Regions from separate parts of the Homo sapiens genome. Here region 2 is linked to region 1. The links come from fine-mapping of genetic effects on gene expression. Tissue or cell type: whole blood. Region 1 holds a variant in brackets; the other region holds the start of a gene. All regions are shown on one strand. Distances are between the middles of the regions.

What was found. PIP is the estimated chance that this variant, and not a neighbour inherited with it, causes the effect.
Region 2: SVIL starts here. The variant in region 1 is fine-mapped to the expression of SVIL in whole blood (INTERVAL, PIP 0.94).

The regions. Positions count from the first base shown.
Region 1 is chr10:29,799,960-29,808,066 of GRCh38, reverse strand. No RefSeq gene overlaps it. Among named protein-coding and RNA genes, the nearest start is that of SVIL, 170 kb to the right of the region's middle. The variant A/C (reference allele first, on the strand shown) is at 4,232.
Region 2 is chr10:29,630,130-29,638,236 of GRCh38, reverse strand. It overlaps SVIL (supervillin), which reads left to right and starts at 3,266. Exons shown (of 38, transcript NM_021738.3): 1 at 3,266-3,817. RefSeq lists a silencer at 3,163-3,457.

The DNA of each region.
Region 1 (8,107 bases):
AATTGAGGGGATTTAAGATGAATCTTAAAAGGTAAAAATTAGCGAGCCCTGGTTACTAGAGTGCCTAGCTTTTCCTTTGCTTTAAATGTTACATTAGAAATTGTTGATCAGCTCCTCAGCATTTCTTCTATGAATTCCAATGGTGAGGACCTCATTGCGGTCAAAATTACAGCAAAAAATTAGAATTCAAGAATATCACTAAACATACTGCTTATTGAACAGTATTACTGTATAGTCATCAGTAACTTAAAAAAAAATCTTCCAAAACCACCCAGATTACAGGCAGGACAGAAAATAGGGATGGCCCTAAGAGGTCATTAGTAGAGGGTGTGTCCTTTGTCTGAGAGGGAGACTCACTTCTCACTTATGTGCTGAGACGCAAAAATTGCCTGAGGAAATTCCAGAGAGGTTGATCTGTGTTTCTGGGTGTGTGCTTCTCATTGTTACTGTCCAATGTCTGATTCCCATACTTCTAGGCAGAGGGTGAATTTCATATCCCCACTTCCCTGAAGTTTGACATGACCATATGACTTGTTCTGGCTGGTGCACTATGAACAGAAGCCATGTGTTTTTCCACCTCCTTTTTCCTCTCTGCAACTGTGGCTGGAGAAGGTAACCGGTGTCCACCCAGCAATGTGTGCTCAACATGGTTTATGAAGGAGAAATCTCTCTCTCCCTCTCTCTCTCATTCTCTATCTGTCTCTATCTCTTCTCCTTTCTCTCTCTCCATCTCTTTTCTCTCTTCTCCTTTCTCTCTCTCTCTTCTCTCTATCTTTATCTCTTTATCTCTCCTCCCTTCTACCTCTTCTCTTTTCTCTCTCCTCCTCTCTCTTTCTTCCTCTCTCTCTCTTTCTTTCTCTTTCTCTCTCTCTATAACTCTTCTCCTTTCTCTCTCTCTCTCTCTCTCTCTCTCTGTCTCTGTCTCACATAAGCCACTGAGATTTGGAGGGTTTTGTAAGTGAAGCATAGCCTACCTAATAGTTTCTACTATAGGGTGCAAATGCAGTGAACACTGTGTGTGTGTGTGTGTGCACATGCTTTCTTTATCATACCTTATATTTTACTCTGCATTCTGTGTATCACTATATAGTACTAATTAATGAGGGTTTGCTGTGACTTTACCTACATTGTCTGCTTCCAGTCTCACCATAAGTCATGTGTAAAGTTCTAGTATTATCATCTCCATTTCATATTTGAGACAAACAGAGGCTCGGAGAGGTTAAGTAACTTGCCCAAGATCACACAGCTGGTGTGAGGCAGAGCTAGGACCAGAACCCAGGTAGTTGGATTCTGGTGAACAGCGTTAACTATTAAGCTAGGCTATCTTTGTACTGCAGGAGTGACCCACCTCTGACATTTCAGGAGTTCTATTCCCACTTAAATTGGTTTACTAAACGTTGCTTAAAAATAACCTTTGTTTCAGAGGGCAATTCAATAAAACAGGAATTTCAAGGCTGAGTCTGTGAGGTTTACAAATTAGTGTGTTGATTCAGAGTATGGGTCATTGTTTCTCTGTAGCATTAGTAACAATATTGATGTTTTAGAGTTTTTTCTCCAGAACCAAAAACCCTTCACAAATTGCTCTGTTTATTAGAGCAAAATTTGCCTTCTGAATCACTTCTAATTGGCTAAACAATTACATAGAACCATCTGAGAGCTTCCCAGAATGTTTCTGTTTGAGGCTGAACCCATGAGCAGCTCTCTTCCAATGAAGTTGGCTCCGTGGGGAAGGAACTGGCCTTGTCTCAACCCCCAGACTCAGGGGATCCTTCCTTCTTGCTCCCATTCTTGTAGCCACAGCTCCTGAGTGCAGTGCGGGTCAGGCCCTCTTCAAGGGATTCGTGTGAGTTCATCCTGGCAGGAGCCCTCTGAGGTTGGTACTATCAATCCTAATTTCTCAGATGGGGAAACTGAGGCATGGAACAATTAAGGAACTTTCCCACAGCTGCAGACCTCATGGGCAGCAAGGCCAGGGGTTGACCGAGTGGTCTGGCCTGGGATCTAGGGCTCCCCACCCTGCCTCACCCCTGTCCCCTGCCCCTGTTTCCAGGGACCTGCTGGAGGTCTCCTGGGATAAGGTGACATTGCCTCTCTCTTCCACGGCCCCCAATCATCTTCCTTCTTGTGTTTCGCACGGACCTTCCTCCCCTGAGGCTGAATATGGGATTCCTGTGAGATTTTCTCAGCATGAGGGCCTCGGAGAAGATATGGACCACAAAAAGTGTGGACAGTAAACTGATGTCCCTGCAGAATGCACCCAGCAAGCTTCTTCCCTTCCTAGACCTTTCAGAGAGTCCCAAAATGTTTCTTTTGGCATTATGCTTAATTTGGGGTCAAAATTGAGAGACACTAGGGTAAAAGCGGCTTTCTCTGATTATCATGGTTAGGCAATGCCTATGGCATTGACAGTAGGGTGATTTTTTTATCCTGCCCCTCAAATCTTGGCATGCTGTAGAACTCTGATGAAATTTAATATCAAGGGAAGCCTTGAAGCAGAAAACTAGGTTATTAAAGGGCAGCCTTGGGGTGGTGTGGCAGACACTGTGACATGCCTTCTATATCTCCCTTCATGGACAGACTTGTTGCCCCCACCACTGGGCATGCTGGTGGCTGGGTGTCAGCTGTCAGCTGCCCCAACTCAGGACTCATCTTAGCTGAAGAGCGGCTTTACCCTAAACCACAGAGGGATACAGGCCTGACCAGCTTGGTCCAACACTGGAGAACATTCTAGCTCCAGGGCTCCCCACAGGGCTGCCCAAGGCCATCATCAGATTTCATCACAGTTTGACTTCTCCCTCGCACTCTCCTGCCTTCTGTCTCCCTGCCACGGGAGTTGATCTCAAGCACACGCCTCAGACACATGCTACACACTAAACTCTGCTTCAGAGGCCACCACTCCAAGGGCATGAAGCATTGGGACAGCCCCAGTGGTGACAGGCAGTGTATTAGTCCGTTTTCACGCTGTTGATAAAGACATATCTGAGAGTGGGTAATTTATAAAGAAAAAGAGGTTTAATTGACTCACAGTCCCACATGGCTGGGGAGGCCTCACAATCATGGCAGAAGGTGAAAGGCACATCTTACATGGTGGCAGACAAGGGAGAAAATGAGACCCAAGCAAAAGGGGAAACCTCTTATAAAAATCAGATCTCAAGAGACTTACTCACTACCACAAGAACAGTATGGGGGAAACTGCCCCCATATTCAATTATCTCCCACTGGGTCCCTCCCACAACACTTGGGAATTATGGAAGTTACAATTCAAGGTGAGATTTGGGTGAGGACGCAGCCAAACCTTATCAGGCAGGATGTGTGAAGTAGGTAGCAGCCAGCGCTACCACAGGTGGGTGGGTGTGTGGGTTTTTCTCTCTGCAGGGATGCTCTGCTGAGAGGGAGGATGGGGACCTAAATCCAGCCTGTTCTCCACTAACCACATGCTGAGCCCTGTGTGGGGGCTGCACCTGCCAGGAGAAAGCACGCCTTTTGCAATTGCACCACAATACTGTACAAACTCTCACAGTCCTGGCAGCAGCCCTCCTGTCTTTGCTTTGGAGAAATAGTGAGAAGCTTAAGAGAAGTGAATTTTCTCAGATTCCCTGTGGCCTTTCTGGTTCCAGCCCCTGCAGCATGCAGCACAGGGAAGTGCAGCTGTAGCCTAGTTGTTTTTGCTTCACTGGATACCCTGGGCCCCAGGGCAAAGAGCCAACATATTATGCCCTCTGAGTCACAGAATCAAAACAGGATTCTCTGTTTCCAGAACTTAGTCATGGTGGCACTGAGGACATTTAAGGAAGACAAACATTAAGCGTCACATTGTATATCCTCAAAAGCTCTCTGCTTCTTGCATTTTTATTTGACTCCAGAGTATTTCCTCACTTTTCTGTACCCAACTGTACCCTCTGGCACCAACCAGAGACTTTGAAACCCTCAGTTTCAGCCATCATCAGTGAGGACAGAGGACGTCTGAAACCCAGACCATTTCCTGAGCTGCAATCACAAAGTTCTTTATATAATTACATATGTGGCACTGACTTCAGTTTCTATCATTGAGAGCTTCTTCCATGAGACTCAAACCACTGGTCACAGGTAAGCAAAAAGAAATGCATTTCCTTTGCCAACAACAGCTGCCTATGCCCACCTAATAATCACTTCTAGTTGAAGATTACCTTCTGGTAACTCTCCAGACAGACCCCAGGAAGCAGTTGGTTGGAGAGGAACCCTTCAAGTTGAA[A/C]CTGGGTTTCAGCGTGTCCAGATGACTCATGTAAATACACAAGCTCTGAGGCATCTCCCCGACCCCCAACAAAAATCTCCTCAATCACTCAGTTTGCTTTCCACTCATTTCCTGCCCCTTTCCCTTCCTCTACTTCCTCTTTTTCTACTTCTTTCGCCTTCTTTCCCCATTCTGACAGAGGAAGACTGATCAAAGCTTTGTTTGTTATTTATTTATACACAGTCGTGTTCTAGAAGGGCTTCTTGAAAGAGTGCATAAAACTCAACTAGGTTGTATAAGGGTAAAGTAGGTCAAAAGGAAAAGGACAAACACGTGCTATAAAAATGCATGGCCCAGGAATAAGACAAAGAATGACCAATACAAGCCAAGCCAAGCTCTGGTGCTCCATGTTTCTGTGAGCCAGAGGCACGTTACAGCTGTGGATGAGCACCTCTGTGATTGGTTTCCCTTCCTCTGCCGATCACGTCATCGTCCAATGCCATGGCTGTAAACACTGTTTGCACTGATGACTCTTATAGCCAAGACTGTACCCATTATTTAGAAATCTAATGACAGATGTTATTAAGGGCTGCAAGGCACCCTATGAAAAGGCTACACTTACCACATTCCCTTGCAACCGTGTAATTAAGTTCTGAACAATGACATGTCAGACAGCATGTAAAGAAGGCTCCTCACTCACACCTGTAAGCCCTGCACTTTGAGAGGCCAAGGCAGGCAAATCTCTTGAGCTCAGGAGTTCGAGACCAGCCTGGGCAACATAGCAAAACCTCATCTCTACAAAAAATACAAGAATTAGCCAGGTGTGGTGGTGTGCACCTGTAGTCTTGGCTACTTAGGGGGCTGAGGCAGCAGGATCACTTGAGCCCATGAGGTCAAGGCTGCAGTGAGCTGTGTTCACAACACTGCACTCCAGCCTGGGCAACAGAGGAAAACCCTGTCTTCAAAAAAAAAAAAGAAAAAAAAAGAAGGCTCTTCAAAGGGACCTGCAGCTGCAGCTTTGATCCTTGCCACAGTCTTCCTACTACCTGGGATGTGGAATTAATGATAAAAGCTCCATAGTCCCTACTTACTGGACCATGGGTAACCTTAAGGGTGGCAGACACATGCTGAGGATGATAAAGCTAAAAGACAAGTGCCTGCTTCCTTGCCAATACTGGACCCCCCCCCCCACCCCATATCAGCCCCTACTTGCCTAGCTCCAGATTTTCATTAAGTGGAAAAGAAGAAAAACCTGGGCTTATGTAAATCACTGATATTTAGGATTGTTTGTTATGTGTAGCCATCTGTATTAATCTGTTTTCACCCTGCTGATAAAGACATAACTGAGACTGGGAAGAAAAAGAGGTTTAATTGGACTTACAGTTCCACTTGGCTGGGGAGGCCTCAGAATCATGGTGGGAGGCAAAAGGCACTTCTTGCATGGCAGTGGCAAGAGAAAATGAGGAAGCAAAAGCAGAAAGCCCTGATAAACCCTTCAGACCTCATGAGACTTATTCACTATCGTGAGAATAGCATGGGAAAGACCGGCCTCCACAATTTAATTTGCTCCTCCTGGGTCCCTACTAAAACACGTGAGAATTTAGAGATACACTACAATTCAAGTTGAGATTTGGGTAGGGACACAACCAAACCATGTCACCATCTAATTCTAAATCATTCTTTCTCAAATTTTCATCTGTAACAATAACCTTTTCAGCTACATATTTGAAGTTTCTACTTGAGTGTTGAATTGGAGTCTTAAACTGAACAGGATCCAGACAGAACACTTGATCTTTTTCTCCCCTTTCTTCCCCAAACTTGGTCCTTCCAGAATCTTCCCCCTCTGAACTAAATGGTACCCCCATATGCCCAGTTGCTCAGGACAAACACCAAGGAGTCATTCTTGATTCTGTTTTACTTCATTCCCACACATCAGCAAGTCCTATGGGCTCCACCTCCAAAATACACCCCACACCCATCACCTCTCACCATTTCCCAGGATCTCACCATTGTAGCCGCTGTCATCTTTCACCTGGGGTATCTCAGCAGCCTTCCAGCTGCTCTGATTACACTCATCTCACTGAAATCCTCCCCCCACAGTGGCCAGAGTGATCTTCCAGAAAATGTAAATCAGATCATATCACTCGTCTGCTTAAATCCTCCAATGCCTCCCACTGAAGTGAGGATAAAATCCAAACTACTATGGCTCACAAAACTCCAAGTGAGCCAGTCCCTACTACCCATTACCCTACTTTTTCATGAGCTAGACTCCTAGCCCTTCTTGCCTTTCTTACTTGATATAGTTTGGATGTTTGTTGCCTCCAAATCTCATGTTGAAATGTAATCCCTGGCCACATGTGGTGGCTCATGCCTGTAATCCTAGCACTTTGGGAGGCAGGAGTGGAAGGATCCCCTGAGCCCAGGAGTTTGAGACCAGCTTGGACAACATGGCAAAACCCCATATCTACAAAAAAAAAAAAAATTATCCAGGTGTGGTGATGCATGCCTATAGTCCCAGTAACTCAAGAGGCTAAGGTGGGAGGATTGCTTGAGCCTAGAGTTTCCAGGCTACAGTGAGCTTTGATCGCACCATTGCACTCCAGCATGGATGACAGAATGAGACCTATCTCAAAAAAAGAAAAAAAAAGAATGTAATCCCCAGCTTGGAGGTGGGGCCTAGTGGGAGGTTTTAGGGGAAGATGCCTCATGAATGTCTTGGTGTTGGTGCTGTCCTCATGATAGTGAGTGAGTTCTCATGAGATCTGGTTATCTAAAATGCTGTGGCACCTTCTGCCTCCCTCTTGCTCCTGCTCTTGCCATGTGATGTTCCTGCTCCAGTTTCACCTTCTGCCATGATTGTAAGCTTCCTGAGGGCCTCCCCAGAAGCTAAGCAAATGCTGGTGCCATGCTAGCACAGCCTGCAAAACCATGAGTCAATGAAACCTCCTTTCTCCACAAATTACCCAGCTTCAGTTATTTCTTTTTAGCAATGCAAAATGACCTAACAAAGAAAATTGGTACCAAGAAGTGGGGTGTTGCTAGAAAGATACCTGGAAATGTCGAAGCAACTTTGGAACTGGATAATGATCAGAGGCTAGAAGAGTTTGGAGGGCTCAGGAAAAGACAGGAAGATGAGGGAAAGTTTGGAACTTCTTAGAGACTAGTTAAAATGGTTGTGACCAAAATACTGATAGAAATATGGCCAGCAAAGGCCAGGCTGACAAGGCCTCAGATGGAAATGAGAAACTTATGGGAAACTGGAATAAAGGTCCCCCACATATGGACATTTAGGTTATTTCTATTATTTTGTAATTATAAAAAAATACTACAATGCATCCTTTTACATGTATTTGGTACATACTTGGAAGTATATCAGTTGGACAAATTCCTTGGAGTTGAATTGCTGCACCAAGGCTGTATGCATTTTACATTTTGATAGATATGATGGAATTACCCTTTGGTCCATTTTCCATGGGGTCACCCCTTAGGATAGTTGAGATGGATCATCTAGTGACACAAGCAAAGACTTCCCACGCAGGGAGCTGTTCATCTCCTATCAGGCCAGGGCCTTCCAGAGAGTTCTTAAAATCACACTTTACACTCCTGGTAAGCGAGGCTTCTAATTTCTGCCCTATCTTACCTGGAGCAGGTATCTTCTTGTCTTTTCTGCCCATTTGTATATAATTCATTTCTAATTCTTTTCAACACTTCCATTGTAACGAGAGACTTAAACGTATGCTATTCGGGTCTAGCACGAACATTCTTTACCTACCTTGCATCTATTTTCAAATCTCATCCTTCCTAACCAACTTTATGCTGTATTTATTTGGCCAGTATTCTATGATTTATAAGGCTTAGAGAGCCTGTCATCTTTTTTCATCAATGGATGACTTAAAA
Region 2 (8,107 bases), 170 kb after region 1:
ATCCGCCACAGCCTCCCAAAGTTCTGGGATTACAGGTGTGAGCCACCCCGCCCTGCTTAAACTTTTAATTTTGAGATAATTATAGATTCAGATGTAGTTGTAAGAAATAGTACAAAGTGATCATGAGGGCTTTTTACCCAGTTTCTCCAGTGATAACATCTTGCAAAGCTATACAATAGTATCACAACCAGGATATTGACACTGATGTGGTCAATCCAATAGAAGAGTTCCAGAACAGGGGTCTCTCATGTGGCCCTGTTAAACCACCTCATCCCCATCCCTAACCTCTAACAACTCCCATCTCTTCTCCATTTCTATAATGTTGTCATCTGGGAAATGCTATGTAAGTGTACTCGTATAGTATCTAACATTTTGGGATTGGCTTTCTGTCACTCAGCATAATTTAATTCCCTGGATTCTTATCCAGGTCGTGGAACGTACTAATAATTTGTTCCTTTTTATTGTTGAGTAGTATTCCATGGTATGGATGTACCACAATGAGGATTGGGTAGAAGCTCATTGCTTTTGCCTAGGGGTGTCTAATTGCTCTAGCACTGTTTGTTGAATGGCACAGAAATCAGTTTGGCATATTCATGTGGGCCTGTCTCTGGGTTCTCCAGTCTGTTCCACTGATCTATGTTATGTGTCTCTCTTTTTGCCAATGCTGTGTTGTCTTGATTACTGTAGTTATCCAGTAGGCCTTAATATGGGATAGATTCATTGCTCTAACTTTTTTCTTCTTTTGAGACGGAGTCTCACTCTGTGGCCCAGGCTGGAGTGCAGTGGCATGATCTTGGCTCACTGCAACCTCTGCCTCCCAGGATTGGGTTCAAGCGATGCTCCTGCCTTAGCCTCCCTAGTAACTGGGATTACAGGTGTGCACCACCACGCCTGGCTAATTTTTCTGTATTTTTGATAGAGACAGTGTTTCACCATGTTCATTAGGCTGGTCTCGAACTCCTGACCTCAGGTGATCCACCCGCCTCGGCCTACCAAAGTGCTGGGATTACAGGCATGAGCCACCACGCCCAGACTAACTTTTTTCTTCTTTTTCAAGATGGTTTTTAGCTATTCTAGGGCCTGTACCTTTACTATAAATTTTAGAATATCTGCCAAAAATCACTGTGAGGCCAGGCAGGGTGGCTCACACCTGTAATCCTAGCACTTAAGAAGGCCGAAGTGGGAGGACAGCTGGAGCCCAGGAGTTCAAGACAAGCCTGGCCAACCTAATGAGACTCCATCTCTACAAAAACTAAGAAATTAAAAAATTAGCCCAGTGTGGTGGTGCACATCTGTAGCCCCAGATATTCAGGAGGCTGAGGCAGGAGGACTGCCTCCTGGGGAGGTTGAGGCTGCAGTGAGCCATGATTGCACACCTCTACTCCAGCCTGGACAACAGAGCAAGACCATGTCTCAAAAAAACAAAACAAAACAAAACAAAACAAAAAAACCTTGCAAGATTTTGATAGGAATTTTGTTAATCTGTAGATCAGTTTGGGGACAATTGACATCTTTTGTGTGTTGATTTTTCTTCCAATTCATGATTATCATCATTGGAAAGAAGTGAGTATGATGAGTCTTCTAAGCCAGGCAGATAGCAAAAAAATTAGGAAAGTAAATGGATTGCACAGGAAGAATTAACTGGGATTTAAATAATCAAAGACAGAAAGGATATATAAAAGAAGTGACGAAGGAGATTTACCCTATTAGACTCCAGTGTATTAATCTAGGACAGTTTGGTTGCTATGGGGAAGCAGTGTGCAAAAACTTAAGAGGCACACAAAAGACTGATGTTTATTTTGTGGGAGTGAATCTTTTTTTAGGAAGGAAATAGCACTATTGTGGTAACAGTGATTCATTTTCTCCTCCTATCTTCTCTTTACAGAGAAGACCCAAATAGTGAACTGTTTCATGTAAGTTTTTATTTATTTTTGCCCTACTTTTCTCTAGGGAGGGGCTTACCACAGCTTATAAAAATACGTAAAACAAGATCAAATAAACTTTAAAATGAGGAAAAAGCCAATATGGTCCAAGGGAAAAGAAGATCAGGGTCAGGACTGAGATTAGGATGCAAAAGCCATGCTATGAAATTTTGTTTGTTTGTTATCTTGAGATGGGTAAAAAAAAAAAAAAACAGTTGACTGGGACAAATACCCCTAGCACAAAACAGTCATGAAGCCAATGTTTAATTATTATACCTGTCATCTTTTCACCTGGCCTCAGGACTGTCCTCTTAGGGAGAGGCATTGTTCTGTAGGGTTAATTAGTAACAGGAATTTAGATCCTGCTTTGAGAGGCCTCCTGTGCTGGCCGAAGCAGCTGGTGGTCTGAGAACCCTGACACCCAGAGGCATACCACTGGGAGGCCCCGCGCAGCACACAGCTTTTGCTGTACTCCAGCCCAAGTCTTATGGGGTTTGTGGTTTATACTGAAGTTGGTGCAGACAATTAAGACTCTCTGTTCTTGGTACCGACAGGGACAGAGACCTACAATTGTAAGTATTTTGTAAACAGGGTTGTGATATTTGTTTGAGTGTATTCAACATGTCAGTGGCCTTTTAATGTTTAAAAAAATGCATATGGCCATTTAAGAAGTGGTTGTGCTTCATAGTTAATATTTTTTTCATTAGGTTAGGTTCATCTGGTTTTTCAGTGAGGTGAGCTACCTGAGAGCCATAGGAAGATAGATCTTGCCAGTTCAGAGGACTGACTTTGGCTTTAAGAGAAAATATTTGTGTCATTTTCGAGAAAGTACTTCCAGCACAATGCTTTCTTCTGATGATTCATTTTCTACAGTTATTGGAAGTGGGAAGAAATCCACAGAGGTTACAGAATTTGTAAACTTGTAGAGACATGTGCCATTATATCATGCTGTTTCATAGATGTGTATGTCTGTTAGTTACTTTTCGGGCATTCATTGTATATATGTCTGTTACTTACTTTTGGGGTGTTCAGTGTCTGAGCTTTGTCAACGATTGTGTGCTCTTTTTTTAGCCTAAAAAAACTAAGTTAGAGAAATGTTTGCTCATCCAAATCTGTATTGTTGTAGCTTATTCAGTAGACTGCTGTTGTATTTTTAATTTCTCTATACAACAAGCTGAAAGACAGTGTGGACAACCTAATTGCATTTGAAGTAGCTGCTGGCCAGGCCTGCTGCAACAGCTGATGGGCTCCTCTGAATTTCCAGGGCTATTTCTGGTAGATGAGCTGGTATCAAGGCTCTCGAGTTCAGGCCATAAAAGGCCCGTCCCATGTGAAGTTGCTTCACTGCTCTGACTGCGTCCTCCCCAGGCTGAAGTGTCCTCAGGTTTCATGTGGATTTGCCCAGTAATGGATGGCTCCACCGAGGCCAGGTTGGGGAAGTTCAGCCTCGAGGACACTAGGGGACGAAAAACTTCAAAAAGAAGACTCTTTTTATTAATATTTTGGCGTTCTTTTTGGAGAGGAACTTTTGGGATGTAGCCTTTACCTGTTTCCTGAATTTGACATCCAAAAAGCCTTTTGGAAAACACCATTCTAAATTTATCCTGTTCTGAATCATCATCGCTTCTGATAGATGCAGTTGCTTGCTGACATCGTGATCTTTGATTTTGTACAACGCTATTTGGGCTAACTTTTGGGATTTTACTTTGTGCTTAGAATTTGAAAGTAGTATTCATTGGAAAGAGACTCCAAGAAAATACTCGAAGACATCAAAAGCTGGATTCGAGGGTATAACGTGTTTTGTTTTGTTTTTTAAATTAGAAAAATAAGGAATTGCAGTGTGATTTTCTTTCCCCCTTTAACTTAGAGGAACGAGGATTATACAGAAATTTGAAGTAAGTGAAAAATCTTCCTATAAATCTAAATGCAGTAGGTTTTTTTTTGTTGTTTTTGTTTTTGCTTTTTTTTAAGTGCCATCTGTCTGAGCATGTTTCCTGAGGATTTGTTGACTTCAGTCATTGGAAAATTCCTGCCAGCGTTTGCCAGTTACTGCAGCCATTCCTGTAGATACCCTTGGGCATATTTCTTGGGTTGAGAAGGATTGGACTTTTTTTTTTTTTTAAAGGATTTACTTTATGGTAGAGAAAGGTTTAATACTAAAAATTTGATTAATATAACTTAGTACATTCTGTCTAAATGTTAGCACTTAAAGTCTTGGAATTAAAGTATATTCACAATGCAACGTACTTTAATAATCGTAGCACAAGTATGGGGGTGGAGTTCAGAAGGGCAAGTTTTATTTCACTGCCATTATAATTCATGTAAAAATAGAAAATCACCAGTGATCCTTTTGCATAATCTTTGTTCTGAGGGTTCTTTGCCTTGGTACTCTCATTCTTCAGGGCTTGATTTCTAGAACTTGCGATGTTCCAGAATTTATGAGAAAAACCTCACTGTAGGTTCTAGAGTTTGAACTGCATTTTATTTTTAAATTCTCCAAGAAAAAATACTGCATCAGCCTTTTAAAGCCCTGGAGATTGCTATGGTCTCTTTGTAATTTAGCTCAGTGATTTGTTTCTGCTGAAAAACAGCAGTGAACTCTAGAACATAGAAGGCTTATTTGACGTGTTGCTTCTTTGAAAAAAAAAAAAGATTATTTCTTTATACCACATCAGATGGACAAGTACGGGCAGTCATTATTTTTACCAGGTAGGAAAACAGAGTATTTATAGAGAAGAACTTCATCGGTGAATACTGCGAGGGTTCTTCACCGGAGATAGTGTGGCAACCCTAGGGGGCGTTTGAAAATGCATGGGGGTGTTTCAGGTTTTCTCAATGACTCACTGGCATTTGGGAGGATGTGGTTAAGAATTGTAAATGCCCAATTTACATGGTGTAGGGGACAGTCCCATACAGCATTACCCTGGCCAAACTGCTGGTGGTATCCCCTGTTGAGTAAAACTGCAGGATATAAATTGTACCCTCTGTCTCCAAAGAAGAGCAGCCCAGTGCCAGGCAGATGTGTGCTGTCTCTTCTCACCAAAACCAGTGATGTCTTTTTTTTTTTTTTTTTTTTTTGAGATGGAGTCTCGTGCTGTCACCCAGGCTGGAGTGCAGTGGCACGATCTCGGCTCACTGCAACCTCCACCTCCCAGGTTCAAGTGACTCTCCTTGCCTCAACCTCCCAAGTAACTGGGATTACAGGCACCTGGCACCATATCCAGCTAATTTTTTTTTGTATTTTTAGTAGAGACGGGGTTTCACTATGTTGGCCAGGCTGATCTTGAACTCCTGACCTCGTGATCCGCCCACCTTGGGCTCCCAAAGTGCTGGGATTATAGGCGTGAGCCCCTGCACCCGGCACCCGGTGATGTCTTGAGGATCCAGGGCATCAAGTGTGCACTAGTGTCAGAGAATTTGTCTTACAATGGAAACTTTGGAGTCTATACTCTGTGTGTGTGTGTGTGTGTGTGTTAAAGATAATTTATTTGGTCACCTTGATCACTGGATGAGGCTGATGTTATACAAGCTATTGTAGTACATTAGGTGCCTTCCTGCCTACCTTTATTTAGTACTATTGGTGCATTTAATTTTGCCACATGCATAGTCTTCCAAGTGAAATTTGGTTAATGCGCTCAGCTTGCAGTGGACATCAGTCAGCCATTCAACAAACAGTTCTTTATCTTTGCTTCTACTTTGGAGACAGACTGTTTTGTGATAAACAGACTTCTGGAAGACTTTGGAGTTCAATTCAGAGTGAACATCTTTGGCAACACCTGGGGTTATATAGTATTCTTTTTTTCTTTTTTCTTTTTTTTTTTTTTGAGATGGAGTCTTGCTCTGTTGCCCAGGCTGGAGTGCAATGACACAATCTCAGCTCACTGCAACCTCCACCTCTTGGGCTGAAGTGATTCTCCTGCCTCAGCCTCCCTACTAGCTGGGATTACAGGCATATGCCACTGCGCCCAGCTAATTTTTGTATTTTTAGTAGAGACAGGGTTTCATCATGTTGCCCAGGTTGGTCTTGAACTCCTGACCTCAGGTGATCTACCAGCGCTCGGCCTCCCAAAGTTCTGGGATTACAGGCATGAGCCACCACACCCGGCGAGTTATTTAATATTCTACAGTTGAGGAATTGCATCCAAAGGAAAGGGCCCTTGGGATTTTTATAAGGATGTCTGGTGAGCTCCAGCATGCAGGGCTCTCGGGCTACATGGAGCGTTATGGAGAGTAAGCTGCTAGGAGCCTTGTGATTGTTAGGGTACAAAGGCAGCCTTGGAATCATCTCCTGAATCTGCAGCTGCCTGGGATTTTAGGACACTCATTGCAATTTTATGTTAAAGCGCTGATCTCAGGGTGCCTTGCTGTGACTGGGAGTATCCGTAGGTCTAGAACTTTCCAGCAGTTCTGGGCTTCATTGATTTGTGACTCAACTAGGAATCTTCTGGTCACCCTTGACTCCTCTCCCTTTAGGTCCCCGAGGCCTCTGCCCCACCACCTCCTCTTAAGCCTCGCCATCTTTTTTATTTTTTATTTTTTTGAGATGGAGTCTCACTCTGTCAGCCAAGCTGGAGTGCAATGGCACAATCTCGGCTCACTGCAATCCCTGCCTCCCGGGTTCAAGGGATTCTCCTGCCACAGCCTCCTGAGTAGCTGGGATTACAGGTGTCCGCCACCACGCCCGGCTAATTCTTGTATATTTAGTAAAGATGGGGTTTCACCATGTTGGTCAGGCTGGTCTCGAAATCCTGACCTCATGATCTGCCCACCTCGGCCTCCCAAAGTGCTGGGATTACAGGTGTCCGCCACCACGCCCGGCTAATTCTTGTATATTTAGTAAAGATGGGGTTTCACCATGTTGGTCAGGCTGGTCTCGAAATCCTGACCTCATGATCTGCCCACCTCGGCCTCCCAAAGTGCTGGGATTACAGGCATGAGCCACCGCGCCTGGCCTCGCCTCGCCATCTCTTACCTGGGCTACTGCTTTGCCCTTAATGGATCCCTTGGCCCTCGGTTTCTCCTCCGTCTGGTCTAGCCACAGAATGACCTTCCTAAACAAAGATCTCATCTTGCACTCGGCCAGGGCCAAACCCTCATCGTTCCTCACTGCTTACATGCAAAAGCCTGGGCTCTGTAGCCTCCCCTTCAGGGTCTTTCATGCCCCTGGAGTTCTGTTGGCAAGTCTCCCCAAAATGTTGTCTTCTCTTGCCTGCCAGGGAAGCAATATCAAAGGAGATGTGCCAGAAGCTTCCTCTGACATGCCTCTGGCCTCCTGGGCCTCGACTCCAGCCTGTACTCTAGGGCTGCAGTCACTAGGTCCTGGTGGCCCTTTCCTTGGCAGCAGGGTACCCAGTGAGGTGCTTGGGTCTCACTTCTCTTACCACCCCCAGGGTCTAGCCCAGTGGGCAATCCAGAAATGTGAGTTGTTTGAACGGATTGAATTGTAACGACTTGTGGGTTCTTCATATCGAAATTTGGCTGTGATCCATCCAGTACTTTTGCCCTCATCCTATATTACTCACAGTAGAAGCTGGTGTTCTGTGTTATAAGTTCTCCTTTTTTTTCCTTCATCTATGACAATGCAAGCAGAAACGTTCGTGTTGCGGTAACAAGTCCGATGGGGTTTCTGTATATGGGGTTTCTGTACACGTGCTTTTGCCAACCGGGAAATTAAGGTGTGCCGCATGAAGTCAGTCACTTCATTATTGGAACTTTGCCTAAAATGAAGAAACTCATCTAGTGGTGCAATTTGACCTAAGTGTTTTACCCATACAGTCAACTTCAACTTGGGTCACACATCTCAGGAGCAGTTTGCACTGTTGATCTCAGGGGCTCTTTAGTATTGGTTCAGAGAGATCTCTGTCCCTCTTAGAGACACTCCCTATTGTAGGAGGTTTTGAAAGAGGCATTCTTTTTCCTCCTAATGTGCTTGTCCCCTTCTGAAAGTTGATCCTTTAATCCCAAACAAGTTTATAACCTATGTCTAACTGGTTTTTGTGTAAATATAGTAAAAGAAATAGTTTCCATATTTGCTTTGGGATCATTGGTCTGCCCATGTCACAGCCCTGGGTACATTCATTTCAGTCCATATTTTTGGGGCACTTTCCCTGTGCAGAGCTCCGGGTGGGTCCTGTGGGATGCAGAAGCCTATAGCGTATTCCCTCTCATTGGCAGCCTCTTTCCCA